Homo sapiens: one gene and its partner. The protein of the gene in region 1 interacts with the protein of each later gene in a pairwise test. Each region holds a gene or a part of one and is shown on either strand. Other genes may lie near its edges.

What was found. Proteins that work in one complex are often made in the same cells at the same time.
Region 2: the proteins of SCHIP1 (region 1) and HTR6 interact in a two-hybrid assay, tested with the Homo sapiens proteins (one large-scale study listed by BioGRID).

Annotation. Positions count from the first base shown.
Region 1 is NC_000003.12:159,885,244-159,888,743, forward strand, and holds part of SCHIP1 (schwannomin-interacting protein 1), read left to right. Parts: intron 1-963; coding exon 964-1,081; intron 1,082-1,965; exon of another isoform or gene 1,966-2,224; intron 2,225-2,464; coding exon 2,465-2,662; intron 2,663-3,500. Other genes in the region: IQCJ-SCHIP1 readthrough transcript protein, read left to right, coding at 964-1,081, 2,465-2,662.
Region 2 is NC_000001.11:19,674,875-19,678,170, forward strand, and holds part of HTR6 (5-hydroxytryptamine receptor 6), read left to right. Parts: intron 1-3,296. UniProt on the Homo sapiens protein: G-protein coupled receptor for 5-hydroxytryptamine (serotonin), a biogenic hormone that functions as a neurotransmitter, a hormone and a mitogen. Also has a high affinity for tricyclic psychotropic drugs.

The sequences.
Region 1 (3,500 bases):
GGGATCTTTTCTTGCGTAGGAACCTCCTTTTGCCTTTTCTTTCCCTAAGCTTACACAGAGACTGGGGCTACTAGAGATGCTAGGAAAACTACTTCTTTAAAAATGCTTTATCACCAAACAGTATTGAAATGTGTTCAACTTCAAAAGAAGGTTAGAACAAAAAGTTGGCTGTGCAGCCTGGCCTGCGAGTGGCAGCTACACGGCCAGGTTACCCTTTGTGACTGTGCTTCCAAAAACATCAGCCCTGGAGCTTCAGGATTCACCACACATATAATGGCTTCCCAAAGGTCTCTGTCCCTGAGGTTCTGTGTGCAGGAGGTGGTCTGCAGAACCTTGCTGTGTTCTAAGGCTGCACCTTACTGCCTGGGTTTGGGGCTTCCTTACATTTTTTTAAGTGTGAACCTGTGGTGTTTTCCTTCCTTAATGATATAAATGAGCTCCCTTGGTTGGCTTTTGGCAACTGCCTTAAAGATTTCCTTCAGATGACCCTATTCTGTCTATTTGGGAGAAAAGGAGTCTTTCTTCAGAGAGCTGTGGCCTTGGGATGCTGGCTCCAGTGAGAGAGTCTTTGATTGTCCCCCTGGGACGGGTTCTCTAGATGACACCACGCAGCCTTATTTGCCCGAGGACCCCATTCATCTTGATTGACAGGACTGTAAACTCAAAGACTCAACACATTTTTATTGTGCACCAACTATCTGTTTGGTATTGTGCTGGGTGCTCTAACATGGGGCCTTAAATTATTTTTCACTTACCATGAAACTGGCGAGGAAAAAACTCACAGAACATTGGAAAATCCTCTACTAAGAGTTATTTATATGTGGAGAGTAATATTGGTTGCTCATTTCTCCATGTGAAGAACACATAAGACTACTTTCTGTTAGCAAAATCAGACAGTTCTATTGGCTGAAGCCAAATAACAAACAGCTAAGTAGAACTAGTGTCCTGTTTGTTTCTGCCCAGACTGCAGAGTGGGATGAACTTGCAGATATGCTTTGTCAACGACAGTGGCAGTGATAAGGACAGTGATGCTGATGACAGTAAGACTGAAACCAGCTTGGACACCCCCTTGTCTCCCATGGTGAGTCCAAACAGCACCAGCTGAAGCTCGGTGTTGTGATTTCCGGGCCATTTAGCTTCTTTTCTGTTGTAAGGTGAATCAGGAACAAACATTTCAGAGATTAAAGAAGAAAAGTTTCTTGGAATTGCATGCTCCTAAAATTTGACAATGATTAAAAAGTCAAAGTTGTAATAAAATAGAGATATATAAGCTTTCTTAAAGTTAATAACTATTTTCATATTAAACCATTAGAGAAATCACCAGCCTGGGCAACATGGCAAAACCCTGTCTCTATAAAAAAATACAAACATTAGCTGATCATGGTGCCTATAGTCCCAGCTACTCAGGAGGCTGAGGCGGGAGGATCAGCTGAGCCCAGGAGTTCAAGGCTGCAGTGAGCTATGATGACACCTCTGCACTCCAGCCGGGGCAACATAGTGAGACCCTGTCTCTAACGAGAGAGAGTGTATTAGTTCATTTTCATGTTGCCGATAAAGACATATCCAAGACTGGGCAATTTACAAAAGAAAGAGGTTTAATGGACTTACAGTTCCACATGGCTAATGAGGCCTTGCAATCATGGCGGAAGGCAAGGAGGAGCAAGTCACGTCTTACATTTTTAAAACCATCATATCTGGTGAGACTCATTCACTATCACAAGAACAGTACAGGAAAGACCCACCCCCATAATTCAATTACCTCCCACTGGGTTCCTGCCACGACACATGGGAATTGTGGGAGTTACAATTCAGGATGAGATTTGGGTGGGTACACAGCCAAACCATATCAGAGAGAGAGAGAGAAATTAGATATGCTCTAAAAATTATAAAGAGAAAATAAGCTAAATCCAGTTCTTCCCTATTGGGCTTAGAAATATTAGCTCATGTCTTTCCTTCCCATTACAGAAGTTGGCTGAATAATCATGGGTGCCTGTTGCTGGAATTCTTTCCTCTCTGTGAGGTCTGTCTATAGCCTTTTTTACCAAAGACCAACAAAGAGGAAACTGTTGTCGTTGAGTGCAGTGCGACATCAGAACATCACTGGATACATGAGATCCTGTCCACGCAAAGAACCTACGTAGGGCCTTGGCTTCGAGTCAATATTTTGTTATGTCTGTTCACTTCAGGAAAGTTTTGAGGCCAAGAATCAAAGACATATTTCAAGGTTGTTGTAAATATATTTCCCATTATTAACTATACTGCTCTCTCTGTTTATGCTAAAATCTATTTTAAACTAGACCCTTTTTCTGTTACTTGAGATTTATCAACTCAAGTAGCAAGTCACATTGAGGGAGGGAACTCTGAGCTGCTCTGAGAGAAGGCTCAGAGGATGTTGTAGCCCATCTCTAAGTGGATGCTAGCTGGCATGCATGGAAGGCTCAGGCTGCTCTTTTTCCCTTTGCAGAGCAAACAGAGTTCTTCCTATTCTGATAGAGACACTACTGAAGAGGAGTCTGAATCCTTGGATGACATGGACTTCCTTACAAGGCAAAAGAAATTGCAAGCTGAAGCCAAAATGGCCCTTGCCATGGCCAAACCAATGGCCAAAATGCAAGTAGAAGTGGAGAAACAGAACAGGAAAAAGTCTCCCGTCGCTGATCTTGTAAGCAGCAAAGGCTGAAATGCAAGGAAGTGTTTGGGAGCCAGAAATGGTTGACACTGTCCCAGTCCTTTCCCAGAATTATGCAAACTTGTGTTTCTCTAAGGCGGTTTGTAAAAAGTCCTGTCATTGAGAAATGATTAAGTTTGTTTCTTTTTCCTTCCTACTGTAGGACTGAAAAATACAGAAGCAATAGATTTCACAAAAGTAAAGTTTGCTGTTGATTGATGTCTACTGTTTCTTAGCAACAATATTAGCTGCCACGGGAATATTTAAATTCCTTTGAAGCGATCTCAATCTAAGAACCTATTGGTCTTGGCAAACTTACTATTGCTATAATTGTCATTCTCATATTTCAATAAAGACAATATCACATAGTGAATAGGAGTCCTGGACTTTGGAGTTTAAGTCTAGCTCTGCCATTGACCTGCTATGAAGTTCTAAGCAAGTTACTTAAGTCTCAGTTTTCTCATCTATAAAATGGGGATGATAATGCCTGTGTCAGAGTATGATTGTGAGGATTCAGTGAGATAAAGTATTCAAAGCACATAGCACAGTGCTTGTAGCATGGTATAAATTATTAAATAGTAGCTGATACTAATTTTTTCCATGTCATTGATATTATTGATGTTCCTTGATAATTCATTTGTGGCTATAACATTGACTCACAACCCATATTAAAGACGAGTCAAAAAGCTTTTGATGCTGGTAGTGTTGTGTTTTGATGCCAGTTGCATATTAGGTAATGTAGTGTGGATGTAGGGCCCCACATTGGGAAAGACACAGACTGGGAAAGCTTTTAATCACTGAATTGCAGTGGGTGGGTGAGTGGGTCTTTTAA
Region 2 (3,296 bases), on another chromosome or scaffold:
AGGAAGCTGCCCTCTGACACTGATACAGAAGGGAGATGCAAACGACAGGACATGGCCCCAAGGGGCTGCGAGGTGCTTATGGGGGAGAGAGAATCCAGAAGGGTGATGCCAGCATCAGCCAGATGCCGGGGTGTGGACTAGTGACAGCCATTGGCTTCTGCTCCATGAGGGCCTCTTGCTGACAGTGGTGGGGTTTCTGTAACCCCACCTGACTGGGCCCATGGATGCCGTCTCCAAAGGTGGAAGCAGCTTGGTGAAGTGGGCAGAGTGGTGTTCCTGAGGCCAGAAATGATGGAATCCCTAACTCAACTCTTAACTGCTGTGTGACTTCTGGCAAGTCATTTTGCCTCTCCGAGCCTCAGTTGTCTCATCTGCAAAATGGGGATGACAATGCCTACCTCTCATAAAGACTGAATGACCTAATGACTATCAAATGCTGATGTGTAGTAAGTGCTCGAGAAATGGGGATGATAATGCTGATTTGTTCAGGGCCACTCAGGTTTTGGTTGGAGGCCTTGTACTGGAACAGTGTGACCTTGGGAAGGGTAGAGTGTCCTCTACCCTTTCTGAGCCTCAGTTTCCTTCTCTCTTTCCTCTTCCCTGTGTTCTTGAGTCAACTCTCTGGAAAGCAGAGGAGAAAGAAAAACCTGGAGTTGTTCCCAGGGAGACTAGAAAGGGAATCTCAGTTCATCTTCACCCCATTCTCTGGAGCTCCTTCCCCCAATGATTGACCTGAGATATTCCCCCTAGTGCCTCAGTTTCCCCCATGCCCTAGAGCTGTGATAAGATCAGGGCTACCTCCTCTCCCCTGCCCTCCTCAGGTCACTAAGGGTCAGAGCGATGCCTGGATGAGACAGTGTCTCATCCCTCTCCATGCCGTCTATTCCCATTGATGGCAGCAATTTGAAGGTGTGGCAGGTCTTAGGAGATTCTTTTGGGGAAGCAGGAGCCTCTTCCTCCAGGCTGACCATGGTGTGGTCACAAAAGCCATATAGAGTCCACTCTGGAGGAGAGAAAACTAGAAGAGGAGAGAGGAGAGTAAAACCCTCTTTTACTCCCTTGCTAACTTGGAATGACTTTGGAGCAGACTCGTGTATGATGGGGTGGAGTCGGAGGAGAGCATCCTCTAGTCATAGCATCTGAGCCGCAGCGTGGTGACTCAGAGCATTTGTCTTGGTGTCTGTGCTGCTTTGGGGAGGCCAGAGCTGCTGGCAGAAGGACAGGCTCCCCAACAGTGCTCAAAATCACCCCAACCTCACAACACATATCACTGAAACAGCAACATGGCTACCAGGTATTTAGCACCTACTCAACGTCAGACTCTGTGCATGCATTTATTATCCATAGCTTCACAGCGACGCCGTAAGCTGAGTATCATTTCTCCCATTTTGCAGATGTGGAAACAGAGGCTCTCTCAAGATCACAGAGCGAGTAAGTGGTAGAGGCCACTTTGATTTGAAGCCAGATCACCTGTCTTAAAAGCCCAGGTTTTGCCTCTGTACAATGCTGTCTCACCAAGACAGAAGGGAGAAACCAAGGCCTCTGTTGTGAATTTGTATAACCTTGATATTTGTACAACCAGATTTCATGTGAAGAAACACGTTGAGGGGTGGGGATTACGATGTGCTTCGTCTCCCTGCCCCAGCAACCTCCTTGCCATTTCAGAATTAGAATTCCAGCTTCTATGAAAAGACCGCGTGTAGTTGGGGTTTCAGCACCATGGACAAGACACCAACTCTGGAGGCCTAGAAAGAGCCGGGGCTGGAGGAGAGGGCATGCGCAGCAGAGTGGGGTGGGGTGTTGGCTTTGGTGCTCCCTGGAGTTGACACATCTTGGCTTTGCCTCCTCCGCCTTTCCATCTGCGGAAGGTTGCCTGGGAATCTGGCTCTGCTCCTGCCTCCTTCTGACCTCATCTCCCCATATCCAACCCACCTCTGGCCTCGAGAACTAAGCAGGGCTCTCACGCAATTTAGGAACTGGACAAATCCCAGTGCCGGGAAAATCCCTGGCTGTCAAAGCCCAGATGTATTCACAGACCGCAAACACACCCTTTGCGTAGCTCATGATGAATTGTGCACACCACTGCCCACGGGCATTAAATAGTAAATAGAGGTGGGCCTAATTTTGTGTAAATCTAATATATGAAAATCCACGTTGATTACAGAAACACATGGTTTAGAGGAGGGCTTCACATCCCAGCTTTCACGGACTCCTAGGGGTTTCTGGTGGAAACCTAGAGACTTCAAGGTCATCTCTGAACCTTCTGGAAGTGTGAAACGTTGTTTTCTTGTCTGTGTGTGTGTGTGTAAAAATTTACAAGCCTTTTATTTTCTGGGGAGAGGTTTGTGTGTGTGTGTGTGTGTGTGTGAGATTTCATTAGATTTTCAAAAGGCTCATGAAGTTTAACAAGTGAAGAGCACTGCTGAGCTAAAGAATGATCCAGCTCAGAGAGCCCTTTGGGACTGTGGGGGCCAGTTTGCAAAGTCAAATTCTAACCTCCCCGGGCCCATGCCTTCCTTTCAGTGGCTGCTGGGAAGTAGCTTCTTTCTCTTCCTCCCTCCTACCCCTTCCTCCTCTTCCTGTCCACTTTTGAGAATGGAGATGCCTGCCAGTTCGCAGTATAATTGAGCTATAAAATGCCAAGGTAACCAGCATCCTTAGGAGCCTATTAAGAGATTTAGCTGCAAACATTGGCTCTGTGCACACATTCTCAAAAAAGCCTTTCTATTTTGTGGGGCTCAAGAGTAATTGCCCAGGCAAGACTATTGCTCCCAAATGTGAAGACAATCCACATACAAAGCAATTGCCAAGCTCTGGACAGTAACAGGTCCTCTTTTTCAAGTACTGTTCAATTGCAATTGATTTTGTGTGTGTCTGTGTGTGTGACAGAGTCTCGCTCTGTCACCCAGGCTTGGAGTGCAGTGATGTGAGCTTGGCACACTGCAACCTCCACCTCCTGGGTTCAAGCAATTCTCCTGCCTCAGTCTCCTGAGTAGCTGGGATTACAGGTGCCTGCCACCACGCCTGGCTAATTTTTGTATTTTTAGTAGAGGCAAGGTTTCACCCTGTTGGCCAGGCTGGTCTCAAACTCCTGACCTCAAGTGATCTGCCTGCCTCGGCCTCCCAAAGTGCTGGGATTACAGGCGTGAGCCACTGTGCCCAGTCAATTGCAATTGATTTCTGTAGCGCTAAAGGCTTTGGAAGGTGCTGGGCTCATTGTAATGTGTGTGTTGGCCTGTGTCACGTATTGTCTTTGCAGGGATGGTTGTTCTTCTGAACCATCTGATTTGTGTTTC